Linked DNA regions of Homo sapiens: region 2 is linked to region 1. The links come from fine-mapping of genetic effects on gene expression. Tissue or cell type: whole blood. Region 1 holds a variant in brackets; the other region holds the start of a gene. All regions are shown on one strand. Distances are from middle to middle.

Evidence for each region. PIP is the estimated chance that this variant, and not a neighbour inherited with it, causes the effect.
Region 2: it holds the start of VTI1A, and the variant in region 1 is fine-mapped to the expression of VTI1A in whole blood (TOPMed, PIP above 0.99).

Annotation. Positions count from the first base shown.
Region 1 is chr10:112,575,255-112,583,102 of GRCh38, forward strand. All of the region lies in intron 5 of VTI1A (vesicle transport through interaction with t-SNAREs 1A), which reads left to right. Among named protein-coding and RNA genes, the nearest start is that of MIR4295, 55 kb to the right of the region's middle. The variant T/C (reference allele first, on the strand shown) is at 3,661.
Region 2 is chr10:112,444,485-112,450,908 of GRCh38, forward strand. VTI1A (vesicle transport through interaction with t-SNAREs 1A) reads left to right here and starts at 2,731. Exons shown (of 8, transcript NM_145206.4): 1 at 2,731-2,983. The coding sequence starts at 2,890. It overlaps ZDHHC6 (zDHHC palmitoyltransferase 6), which reads right to left and starts at 2,430. Exons shown (of 11, transcript NM_022494.3): 1 at 2,221-2,430; 2 at 686-1,166. The coding sequence starts at 952. RefSeq lists enhancers at 2,217-2,336, 2,537-2,796.

The sequences.
Region 1 (7,848 bases):
GTCTCTTCCCTGGCACTGAAAACTGATGAAAGTTAGGTTGTGTTCCTGTAGTTCGTTTTCAGTTTCTGACATGCAGATCTAATTTATGGATCTTTTCATTATAATCTTTGTAGCTGTTTTCATAAATGTACAAGTCAAGGTTTTCTTCATGTGTGTTTAAATATCACTGATATTTATCCTCTCTTTGCAAGAGTGGATATTGATAATGGCCAATGGTACAGCAGTTTTCTGCTTCCTTCAGTAAGCGTTTGTTCGCGTCCATTGTGTGTTTTCAAGAATGTTAACGTTCATCTTCATCCCTGCTGAGAGTGCTCTATAGGGAAACATGCTGGCTCTGTTTACAGTCCAGTGGAATTAATACTGCCCTCATTTAAATTAGCAATTTATTAACTAATTACAAAACAAAATTACCTTTTACCTTATGAAATTAATTGTTTAATATTTAACTTGAAGGATGGCACTATGTTATTCTTGTTATGAAGGAACATTCATAAAATCATTTCATTGTCTTTTTAATTTTCTCAGCAGCATTGGAGCCATTGAAACGATTTTGCCTGATAGACTTCATATTTTTAGCATTCAAATTGTTCTGTTAAATTAATACTATTCCATTATTTTAGATGATATCTTGTTGAAGAGAATAGCTTCCAATTAGCAATTTATTGTGTAGAAAAGTTTAAACCTCTCGTGAATTTTTCTTTGTTTGTTCATTCTGTGTATCTTTTGCCCATTCCCACCCTGCCCCCTGCCTTTTCTTTTCTTTTCTTTTTTTTTTTTTTTTTTTGAGAGGGAGTCTCGCTCTTTCGCCCAGGCCGGACTGCAGTGGCGCTATCTCGGCTCACTGCAAGCTCCGCCTCCCGGGTTCACGCCGTTCTCCTGCCTCAGCCTCCTGAGTAGCTGGGACTACGGGCAACAGCCACCGCGCCCGGCTAATTTTTTGTGTTTTTAGTAGAGACGGGGTTTCACCGTGTTAGCTAAGATGGTCTCGATCTCCTGACCTCGTGATCCGCCCCGCTCGGCCTCCCAAAGTGCTGGGATTACAGGCGTGAGCCACCGCGCCCGGCCCCCTGCCTCTTCTAAAAGGGCCAGACCTAACATGTTCAAAATATTTGCTGTTTTAGCATGCATTTAATCATTAGATCGTTTCTAAGTACCTCCTAGGAGCCAGGCACTGTGCTAACATTCAGGAAACACCCAATTTAATAGCCTTAGAACTGTACCATTCTCAAAATAGAAACTTTGGAATCTGAAGATAATAAAAAAATTTCCAAGTGGAAGTTGAAATTACATTTTAAATATATTCTTGGAATAAATATTAAACTCTCAAGAGTATCTTGGGGTGGGATGGTGGAATGGTGATTACAAGGTACTACCTCCCATCATCTATAATGGTAATATTTTAATGATGCATTACTTTCCTAATCAGACGAAGATTAAAAATAAGATGTTTTCTGATATTTCAAGAAGCATTCCTTCATTCTATATTTGAGTGCCAAATATGTACAGGGCTTTAGGCTATATATGTCACAGCAGTATTTTTCAAATTTTGTTATCATGACCTATAGTAAGAAATACATTTCACGTCACAATTTATATTACACACACCCACACACACAAAACTGAAATAAATATTTTATGAAACAATACTTAGCCTTGCTAACTACAGATAGTATATGCCAATATTTTCTACTCTTGTTGTTTTAAAAAAAGAAATGGCAGTCTTGATTTCTAAATTGATTTTATAATCCGTCTATAAGGTCACAATCCACAGTTTATGTTAGGGATGCATAGATAAATAAGTTTTAGCTCTAACTTAGAGCTTGTATATTCCAAGAGGGAACATAAAACATGCCTACAAAGAACTCACTGAGTCCTCACGTGGTGGGGAGAGAGCTCTGATCTTTCTTCCTCTTTTTATAAGGACACTAATCCCATCATGGAGACCTCATGACCTCATCTAAACCTGATTACCTGTACTATCACATCTAGGGGTTAGGGCTTCAACGTGTGAATTTTGGGGGACAGAGACATTCACTCTATAACAATATTTTTCTATCAACCAACTTTAAAGCAACTGAAATTTTTTATTACATATCCTTATCCGCATGAGTTAGACATACCAGTCAAGCTTTCCCTAATATCTAAATATATAATTGTATAATGATTGAAGTATATACCACCAAGAGTAGACCAGGCACTCTTTGGTAAACAGTTAAAAGTGAGAGGGTTTTGGGAAACTAAGTCCAGGTTGAAGAAGAAGATAACATTTGGAATGGGGCCTTGAAGATTGGGAGCAGTTACAAAGAAAGCCATCCCCTGTGGGGATAACATTGTGAACAAATAACATGCCAAGTAAAAAGTTGTGTTCAATAGCTTCTAATATGTTCTTATTAAAGGCATATGAATGACAGGGTGATATGATGAGGCCTATACTTAAGGAACATTATCCTGGTAGTAGTGTGGGAAAGGAACTGGGAGATGGACAAGCTGGAAATATAATTTAATCAAAAATTGTATTTTAAAATTAGACATAGAATCATATGTACGTGGTTAAATCAGCCAAGCAGCCTTCCAGGCAGTGAAGAATTGCAAGAGGGCATGATGCAGGGAAAAGACCATCAGACCACCAAATCCGTTCGCTGTTTAAGTTTCAGCAAATCATTTACCCATTTTCTATTCTCATTTCTTCTTTTGAATGGGGTTAATAACGCTTATCCGACCTCATAGACTTGCTGAGAAAATCAAATGAAAAAAGTCCGGAAATACTATGTAAATGTGAAGTAACTTTCTTATTGTTTTGTTTGAACCTTTTTGAGCCCAAGAAGTGACCTGGTGATAACGATGCTTTAGGAGACGAATCTGGCCAGTGGCATATAGGACAGCTCAGAGGAGAAGAAACCCTAAGGAAAGCATTTCAGACAGTATGGCAGCAGGTCATAGAAGAAATAACTGAGGCTCGAATTAGGGCTGTGAGAGCAGGAATGAAGAAGAGAGGATGGATGCCAGAGACATCACTGAGGAAGAATCAACAGACGCAGCAATTTGGCTCTGAGGATAGGAGGTGGGGGGCAGGGATGAAGGGAGAGTTAGGAGAAACCCTATCAGAAATCCACGGTTTCTGGTTGAGTAAAAGGTATATATTGATTGAGTAAACAGTAAAGGAAAATCAGGAGGAAGAATAGGTTTGGAGGGCAGAAAATACTGAATTTAAGATATTAACAAAGTGCCCAAGTGTTTTCATTGAGTAGCCAGTCAAACCTCTGGGATTGAAGCTTAGGAATGAAGTTATAGTTAGACATGTAGACATAAATCATTCTTGAACTGATAGTCATTTAAATCTATATATTTCAAACTTTATCCATATGAGTGCAACTTGTAAGCTTTTTGTCATATTTGCATGATACTTTTACTTAATATTTTCAAATCTATTTTAAGTTAGCTCACTTTTTGAAAGCGTAGCCCCATTCTAAACAATAATATCTTGAATTTGATGTGATGGATATAGTTTTTAAGATACCCATTAGATGTATAATTACCATATTGCATGATTGTAAGATGTGTATCTTTTTACAATTTAACATTTCTGTAATTAGAGTGTTTTACAATTAATGGCATCTTACAAACTCTGCAGGCCAGCAACAGTGGTGATATACTTGTCAT[T/C]GTCAGCACATGAGCCAACTTGCTTGCTATTCCTGGTGACATCAGCAGAAAAGTGTAAGTTTCTATCAACAAACCATTTAAGGATCTTTATAGAAAAGAATATGAGTTTAATTGTCATCTGAAAAACCTTACTTTCTGGTACATGGAAACTTACAGAATAGTATCAGCAACATGGAAGATAATCCCAGAGACACACTTAAGAGATGCCGTATCCCAGTACCCTTGATGCAGCATCAGGTGCAGAGGACATTGATGACTGTAAGTTGAAAAGTGAATCAGAAGAGGTGGACACTTATGTGTGGAAAAATTCTAGGAAAACCTTAACCCATTCATTTTGCTTATATTTCCATTTTGTGTATGCACAAGAGAGATGTATGTAAGATCTCTGAGTCAAAAAGAGCTCATTGAATAAGCATAAAATAAAAATTTTAAATGATAAGAAAATATAGTGTCATAATTTAGTTGACAGCTGTTTTCTGAGTAGTGTATAAAAAATGGTGCATCTGGCTGGGCACTGTGGCTCACACCTGTAATCGCAGCACTTTAGGAGGCCGAGGTGGGAGGATGGCTTGAGGCCAGGAATTTGAGACCAGTCTGGGCAACATAGTGAGACATTGTCTTTTAAAATAAAAACTAAAAAAAGGTATATCTTACAATAGATGCTGACTAAGGTTAGATTGAACAAAGTTTCCAAATAAAAAAGTGTCAGTTCATGTTCCACTTAAAGTCATCTCATAAATGCTACTTTTCAGAAACACATTTAAAATACGGGAATAAATAAGATCACCCAGAGAATACTAATAGAGAAGAAAAGAGCCTTAGAACCCTAAGGAAAGTGCATTTCACAGGAGAAAAGAGAAAGTGGGAGAAAGTAAGTGAAGAGAATTTGCAGATAACTCTGGGAAGTGCAGCATCATGGAAGCTAAAGAAAGAGATTTTTCAAGAAAGAGAAGTAACTTAGAATAATTAAATACTATAGAAGACCCAGAGAGTATTCAAACAGGTAGGAAGTGGTGGCTTTTAGGAACAGAAAAGTTTGAGTAGTGGAAAAGTTGATCCTAGAATTTTCTTTTTAAGAAAAAGTGACTGGGGAAGAAAAAAAGGTGGTTTTGATGAGGATTAGAATTATTATTTTTTTTCTTACGTTCAGGCTAGAGATCCCTGATCATGTGTTGGGGCCTAGAGGTGGAAACTGGTAAAGGGGTAGTGATGCCAGCATGAAGGAACCTCATTGATCATTTCAGGACCTGGAAGATGTACAAAGGGATGGAATCAACAGCAGAAGTTGAAGATGTAACCTCAGAAAGGAGAAACACTTCCTCTGAAGCAGGGGTGAAAGAAGCAGAAGATAGATTTTGAATAATGTATAAATATAGAAGAGAGAACTTCTGGAGAATCACCATGATTCCAAATAGGAAGCCAAGTTACTCCCTGAAGGTGAAAGGCAAGGTCAAGAACTTAGAAAGAAGATGGGAAAGGCTGAGAACAGTTGTGGTGGGGAATGTCAAGGTGACTCAGCAGGAGCGGGATTGGAAATTGCTGAACCATCGCAAAGGCCCAGCTGAGGTTAGGAAGCATTAATGTGTATTGGGCTCAATAACATGGTTTCACAGTTCTCCCCAGGATTGCTTGGCAGACCAAGAATGGAAGCCAAGAAAGTGAACAGTGGAAAGTTGATGCCTTTTGAGAACTAGCAGACTAGGAGTGACAGGAGAACAAAGAGGGAGTGACTGTAGGGTAGTAGGGAGTGCAAAGTTGAAATGGCTAACTGTGGGAGGCAGGCCAGATGGGGAGGCAGTGAAAGGCCAAATCAGGGTGACAGATAGGAGGAAAAGGGGGGCATCAGGTGATTGACATTTCACAGTGTGCATAGAGAACCAAGAAGGGAAAGAAGGAATGTGGGAGTCTGGTTGACTAAATGGAGATTTTGAGAATTTCAAGATTTTGAATATAGAATATTTAGGAATAACTACGTACTGGAATTACGAATGTACATGTCTTCTTAGAGGGCAGTGTATATAGCCTGATAGTCCATAGCAATAGATTTGGATCTGAACCCAAGACCTACTAGCATTTATACACCATATGATCATGCTAAATATAAGTTTGCATTTCCCACATGCACCCTGCATAGTTCCTAGGAAGATCAACTCTATGGATCACACCAGTGGGCTCCGCATGCCTTCTGGGTTCCAGTTAGGTCACCCCGTGGGAGCTCTGGCAGAAGATGGAACACAGGGAGGAGAGTGTAGTCCAGGTATGAATTCACTTGGTTCTCTTCCTCTGGGATTGCAGTGGGCTGGCTGCATCATTCTCTCTGCATAGCCCTTTCTTTCAGAGTCCTGATAACTCCTCCCTCCCTTCCCATATTCAAGCCTAGGGGTGATAACTTGTCCACTGTTACTTGCCCCAGGTTAGTGTGCCAGGCCTTGTGGTTTCCCACGCCTTTTAAATTATCTCTGTTACAAGGTCTGCTTAAATTACCAATTTGAGTATGTGGTCTGATTTTTATTGGGACTCATAAAAATCACCTTGTGTAAGTTACTTAGGCTTTCAGCCTCACTTTTCTAATCTGCAAGATTGAGATAACAGAAGTACCTACCTTGTGGGTTTGGTAGACAAATTAGATGTGATAATGTGAAATCCTTATACAATGCAAGGTATATATTAATAGTAAGCTCTTGATAAATTATGATGATGATGATTGATTATGATGATGATGATGCAGATATAGACACTGGAATTTCCATTTATGTTTATAGAGATCTATAGATCAGCGACAGCATTCCTGTTAGCAAATAGCACTTCCTGATGCGTCTTCATCAATGGCAGAATTTAAGGGGCAAATTGAAGAGGGAGGACACTAGCCACCTCCATAATCTCTATTAGCACCTCCCCTGAAAGGCACTTTAGGTTGATAGTATCACAACCTAATATGTGGAAAGAAGAAACTTAATAGGCAAAATGCTCTAAACTACAATTGGAATATCTTTACTATAACATCTAAGTAAAAATAACATGTTTGATGTGCAAATGCAACTTCACGGCAATATCTCTGACTTACCTCCTTGACACACCTTTCTGTCTTGATGCTAATTTCTGTCTTAGTCAGCTCAGGCTACCATAACAGAATACCACAGGCTGGGTGGCTTAAACAACAGAAATTTATTTCTCCAGTTCTAGAGGCTGGAAGTCTGAGATCAGGGTGCCAGCATGGTGGAATTCTGGTGAGGACTCTCTTCCTGGCTTGCAGATGGCTGTCTTCTTGCTCTGTCGTGGAGTTAGAAAGAGAGAGAAGGACACTCTCTCCTGTCTCTTCTTATGCGGGCACTAATCCATCATGCAGACCTCGATCCCATGACCTCATGACCTCCCCAGTGTGCATTCTCCAGATATATTACATTGGGGATTAGGGTTTCAATCTATGAATTTTAGTGGGCAAAGACATTCAATCCATAGAATTCACCTCTTGTTCCCCCAAATATATGTTCTCCTCACATGCCAAGTACATTCCTTCCACCCCAGCAGCCCCCAAGGTCGCTGTTAAGTATGGAAATTGTGGAACCATCTCTGGTCATCTTGCTTGTGAGCCCTTCTCCAGATCTCATGGTGACATAGCTAGTGGAAACCTTTGAGGGCATGGCTGTGCCTTTTAGGTGGTAGAAAAGTAGTGATTTTAAAGACTTGTGGTCCAAGAATGACTTTGGTAGAGAGGAAACTCCAAAACGCTTACCTTGTTAAATTTGTTATGACCTAACAAGGCAATACTTAAACTTGAAGTGTTCTAAATTATTAATCTATAATAGTGATGCCATCTTATACTTGATTAGTGCCTTTTAACTTAAACGTGTTTTTAGTCACTTTTTTAACGTATAAATATTATTATATTGTAAATATAACTCCTCTGTGAGGTCAGCCACCTGGAGACCACCACTGTGCACCAGCTTTGAAGAACACCAGTAAGTATCTCTTGGCTGTAAAAAACCTCCAAGAAAATAAGACCCTCTAAATCTCCATCAGTGACCTGCCCAGCTTTACCACTGACCATGATGCCCAGGAAGGGAGGCACGTTTGCTGATACATGTATTCAATACTAGAGCAGTTCTGTAAACTCTTCCCAAATCGTTTAAGTGGTTTCATGTTTCATGTCTTATATGCATGTGGGCATCTTATAGAGATAAAGAAAGG
Region 2 (6,424 bases), 130 kb before region 1:
TACGCATTTTGAATAGTACATAGCACATGATATACACCAGTGCTTCCCGAACTTTAATATACCTAAGCATCACCTGGGCACTTTATTAAAATAAAGATTCTGCTTCAGTATGTCTGAAGTGGAGCCCAAGATTCTGCCTTTCTGACAAGCCATCAGGTGTGGTCCCTTAGCAGGAAACATGGACATTCATAAGCATAAATTTCCCAGTAGTTTTTAAGCTATAAATGGATTTGGACTATACTTCCCAATGTTATATTTTCAGTGCAATGATTTTAAAACTTTATGATTTAAACCAGCAGTTTCTAAAGCGTTTTTCTCAGTTCTAAGGGATGTTAATGTATTACATGAAAAAAGGTACTACAGCCAAACCTCACTGTGTATGACATGTGATGTTTCCTAAACTTTTGACCATGAACCTATCCCACCTCCACCCCACCTCCATCTTTTTTTTAATGCAGAGCAAATATTCAATAAAATTGCTTTGGAAAATGCTATTTTGGATCAATGTGTTCAAACAGATATGAAATAAAGTCTCCGAGCCTAAATGATCAGTGATTAGAGTAATATACTTAGTCTCTGTGAGGACAAACAGTAGGCTGTGTTTGGTATTATTGGTTAGTAGATAAGGCAAAAACCAAATATACGATTATCATTAAAGTTCATTGTCTTACAGAATCTTTCTTACCGGTTTCCACCCCAGAGGGACAAAGCCCGGACCGACAAACATGGCATTGAAGTAATTATAAAGAATCATGACAGTCCAATTTATCAACATGATGAAATTCACACTTCCTCCAGTTGTATGTAAGGGCCAATACCACAACACAGAGTCAATCATGGCCATGGTAGAACATATTGCTATAACACCAAGGGCTATGATGGGACCCCAGTGACACAGTCTCTTTAATTCTTGTAGATTTTCAAACTTGATAACCGAACAGAATGTACCCATTTTGGCAAGGAAGAATGCCTTCCTACTTTAAAAGAATTATAGATTTCCTTTTTCTGTGCGCACATTTCCATGTGCCACAAGTCCATGTGTGTTCTTTAATTGTCATGCCTTCAAGCTGTGAACTGTTAACGCAGATTACACCATTTTCACTGTCAGGCACCCAAAGCTCTTTATCTTAACTAGGAGAATCCAGTGTCTTGGTCTGAAACCCAACCTAAAGAAAACAAAATGGGAAAGTTCAGTTAAAACAAAACAAAACAAAACCTTTATTGCATACCATACTTGTTAACTACAATAAACACCTACACAACAGCATCTCACAAGTGCACTACACTTTGGGATGCATATCTTGTCAAATGTCAAAAAGAACTACTTTTGACTTATCCAAAATATGGTACAAGTTTGAATGGCATGCAAACTGGATACACGATTCCAAAATAGTTTTTTTTATTCCTTCTCCGCTTGTCAGGGGACTGTCACCATCCAACGCTTAGTGAATAGTTTGAGAAGACAAAGAATTTTAGGACCTTAGAGTTGATCTAATTCAGTTTCCTTCTTCATAGAACAGAAATTGTCTTAGAGAGGCTGAGTGATTAGACCAAGGTCACAAGTAACAGGTGAACCAGAATAGAAGGCAAGTCAACGACCTCCCTTTATGAAATTCTAAGCTGCCTCTTATGAAGTCTTGAATTAAGCCAAGTATGAGTCAGACATGGTCTATGCCATTTGCCTGCAGTCTCCTCCACCCCGCCACCCAAACATCAAGAGAACAGTCAATTTGGCCCAAAAGTAAAGGAGCGACAGTGAAAGCAAAGAGAGCATGCAAGGAAAGGAAGGGAGGAGATAGAGCGAGAGTGTGTGTGGTGTGTGTGAAATTATGACCAGAAGAGTATATGAGAAGAACCTGAATTAGAAGATTCGAGGGAAGAAAGAAGAGGAAGTGCCTCCAGGAGCGAGGGAAATGGAAGGCAGGGCGGCGAGCTCCGGAGAGATTTGTGGAAGGGCATCTCTGCCTGGACTGGATCTGAAGATCTGGAAGAGGATCTGAGCTACATGGATAATACAGACTACCACGCAGCAGACGCTGTTGACTTGTGCCTCAGTTTCCCGCCCGAGTCATGGAGCAGAGGGCTTAGAAATAAATCCTCACCCAAGGAAGAAATATCCTGGTAAGCCAGGTTGGTCTCAACATTCAGGAGAGCCTGCTCCCACTCTGGTGGGACAAAGACCACCAAAATCGTGCTTATATTCCCTGCCTTGACTCCCACCTCAGTGTGGTCCCTGGTGTCTGCTCCTCAGCCATCGCATATCCGGGGCGGCCTGGGCTCACCCGGAACAGATTTTTTCCTCCTTGGATGACTCCGTCATGGACACCTCAGCCCAGGACAAGCAGAGAGCAAACCCTGGCAGCGAGAGGCTGGAGTGCGGGACCTGCTACAAGCCGAGCACCTCTCGGCCAGCGCCCTCGCCAGGACTCTCCCGCTCAGGCCCCCTGCGCAGTCTCTGTTACTGTCACTTCCGGAGGTTCGCCGCCTCAAACCTCCCTCCGGAAGCAAGCTGCTGTGCCTTGTAGCGTGTGGATCCGGAGCCGATTCCCAGAACACGAAGGGGGGAAAAAACGCTTCTAATGATCCCTCAGAACTTGCATATTTTCATACGCTTTTCTGGGGGGAGGCACTAATTGGGGCGCTTTTCCTTTGCGAACTTACTTATCTTAAAGTCGGAGCGGAAAATAAAGCACGCACGCAACCCAATTTCCGGAGAACCGAGATTGCGACGAACAACCAGGAAGCGGCTGGGTTGAGAGCTGTCCCCGGTTCTCCGTTCTGCTCTCGGGGGCACCTTCCGGGGTTCCTAAGCCGCGGGGCCCCTCGCTGCCCCTCGAGGCCCTTTCCCTGACCTAGGCTTTGGCCTGGGCTACTCGTTCCGGAGCCGCCATGTCGTCCGACTTCGAAGGTTACGAGCAGGACTTCGCGGTGCTCACTGCAGAGATCACCAGCAAGATTGCGAGGGTCCCACGACTCCCGCCTGGTGAGAGCCTTGCCCGGCTGGACGAGGGTGCTGGGGAGAGCTGGGAGGGTGCGGGCGGTGGAACGCCGCCCGAGTAAGTGTGTCTATGAGGCGCGAGGCTGGAGTGGGTGGTGCCGGCTGTTCCCAGGAGGGATACGGCTTGGCTTGGTTGAGGGTAAGGAGTCAAGTTCGGGTGTGGGGTGCCGTGAAAAGAGCCTTCGGAATCTGAGCCATCTGAGTTCGAATCCCGGCTCTACCTTCTTGTAACTTGCATAACCTGGAAACGTTTCTTAACGTCTTAAGAGTCTTAATGTTTTCATTTGTAAATTATAGACATGTGAGTATTCAAAGAAAATGAATGAAAGTATGTAGCCTATGGATCTACAATCTACAGCGGCGTTGTTGTGTTAGTAATAATATTGTTATAATTATATGCGGCAAAATAGAGGTAAGAATCAGGGTGCCTAGATTCAAATCCTACCTCTGTCACTTAGAAGTTGTGCCTCTTAACCCGGGAGGCGGAGGTTGCAGTGAGCCAAGATCTCGCCATTGCACTCCAGCCTAGGCAACAAGAGTGAAACTCCGTCTCAAATAAATAAATAAAATAAAAGTTGTGCCTCTTAAACAGACTTCTTAGTCTCTTTCAACTTTCCTTCTTAGTAAATGGGGGAAAATTGTACTTCTCTCATGGGGTTGTTAGGTAGATTAAATTTATATAACATATTTAAAGTCACTTTTGGTGTTGTTAGTTGCTGTATTAGCATTAGTATTTTTCATACCCCCCACCCCCATTTCTTGTTTCTCATCCTTCTTGGGGATTTATTGTATAACCCAGTTTCATGTAAAACTTGGTACAAGATAATTTTTCACACTTAAAAATTTCACATCTCCCATCTGGAAATGTTTTTGTTTTTGTGTTTCCTTTTGTGTTTTAGCACATCTTATTTTCTATGCTAGACTGTCAACTATGTGAAGGTGGGAGCTGTGTCTGATTTCCTTGGCGTTTACTTATTAGGGGCTCAGGAAAATAAGTGAATGAGCAGGTGAATATAAATATGATCTTTTGTAACTATGGTTTGTACAATGTTGATTCGGGGACTATCTTTCTCTACAGATTAGAGTAGTTAGTTACAGAAAAGGGTTTTACATTTTTGTTTAGTTTTGTTAGGGAAATTGAACCATCATCTGGCTGCTAGACTTGTCCCTACCCTAGCTCCAGGATATAAAGTGTAGAAAGGTGGATGTGCTCATTAATCTGCGGATTGGTGGGCACTTCACTTGCCCACTTGTCCTGGTACTAGCAATAATTTCTCCCGGACCTAAGTTGTCATTCCTCTTTCCCTTTCCCTACTTCCCCCAAAACTTATGTGTTTATAAGTAATTTTCTTCCCTTATTTCTTTGTTTTTCTTCCCCTCACCTATTTTCTGTTAATAGGGATATTTGCTTGAAGCCAGGATCTCTGAACTTATACCCCACTCATCTCCTGAAGTCCCCAGTTAGTTCTGGAGGAGATGGATGATGTCTTAAAGAGGTTTATGAGTCCAAGTAAGGGAACAAGAGGAGAGAACCAAGGTAGTATATACCACCAAGCTCTGCTGCCTCAGAGATTTTTGTGTCGAAAGTGGCTGATGGCCTCATCTCTTCATGATACATCACCTCGCCTCTTCTCTTCAGTTCTGCTTTTCTCCACTGCCGGAGATCGTCTTGATTTTTGTTATTGTTGGAGACTACTTCCTTTGAATTGAGTCCCAGAGCCTCAGAGTATCAGGACTTGTGGTTCCAGTTAGAGTTTTACTCATTTTTAATTGTAATTGTTTTAGCAGTAGAAACATTTCTTTGGGTTATTAGTTTTTGTATTGGGAAGCTGTTTTACAAGGTAACAAAATCATCCTTGGATGCAAAGTTGTAAATTTCCAAGAAAACAGATCGTGTTACAATTTTTTTCTTGCCTTTATATTTTAATGTGACAATTCTTAACACATAGAAGGAAACTTTTTGAATTCAGTACCTTAAAAATAAAACTGGGCAGAGCCCGGTGGCTCATGCCTATAATCCCAAAACTTTGGGAGGCCGAGGCAGACGGATCACCTGAGGTCGGGAGTTTGAGACCAGCCTGGCCAACATGGAGAAACCCTGTCTCTACTAAAAATACAAAACTAGCTGGGCGTGGTGGCACATGCCTGTAACTCCAGCTGCTCAGGAGGCTGAGGCAGGAGAATCGCTTGAACCTGGGAGGTGGAGGTTGCGATGAGCTGAGATTGCGCCATTGCACTCCAGCCTGGGCGACAAGAGCGAAACTGTCTCAATAAATAAATAAATTAAAAAAAAACTATGTCTTTCCTTAGCTGTAGTATTATATAAGGCCCAAACACAGGAGCTTCATTACAATTGAAAGGAGACTGCATTGCTGGCTCTGGAAGAATGCTTACTGACTTGTATTATTGAATAATCATAATTCTTTTTTCTTTATGAGATGGGGTCTTGCTGTATCGCCCACGTTGGAGTGTAATGGCGCAATCTCAGCTCATTGCAACCTCTCCCTCACGGCTCAAGTCTACTCCCACCTCAGCCTCCCGAGTAGCTGGGACTACTCAAGCCACTGTGCCCGGCTGATTTTTTTTTTTTGTAGAGATGGGGTTTTGCCATGTTGCCCAGGCTTGTCTCAAACTCCTGGGCTCACGCAATCCACCCACTTGGGCCTCCCAAAGTGCTGGGATTACAGGCGTGAGCCACCGCACCTGGCCTGATCATAATTCTTAAAAACGCAGTAGTTGCCCTCTTAATAATGACTTGTGCTTGCCCCTTTTTAAATCTATTTCCAATTGATGTATAGAAAAAGATGAAAAATATATCCATGTAGTTATGAATTTCAGATGTATGTCTGTAGATGAACAGACATTAATATATATAACCATGGCAAAAATAGTTTGATGACAAGTAATTATAATCTCTCTCTCTGGCCATCATTGGCGAGTGCAGTGTTGAGCTAAAAGTGACCCAGAGGAGGTGAACTATAATTTACTTGAGTTAAGAAGGATAAAAATTGGAGCAAACTTTCCAGCCAAAGCAGTTAATTCCCCCAACATAGTAACTTACTTAAATTCAAGTAGAGTGGGTAGATCTATTGAAATGAACTTTACTCTGCTGTGCATGTTACAATGTATTAAAGTATTGCTTCCAAAGAGAACAGAAGAGTGAACATTTAAAAATTTTATTTTAAGAAAGAAATCTGATTACTCTGTGATATTTTTTAAACAATAAAGAGATTTTGCTCTTAAAGTGTTTGAATCTTAACTAATTTTAGTAATTGAACTGAGATGGGTGAGTTCTTTCTTAATACCCTATGGCACTATATTTGAACATTGTTTTTTTAATTATTATGGTTCTGTGGGAAAGTAAGGAAAAGGGATGAGCAGAAACTATACAGTTAGTACTTTATTGTGAAGTTCCTTTTCCTCTAG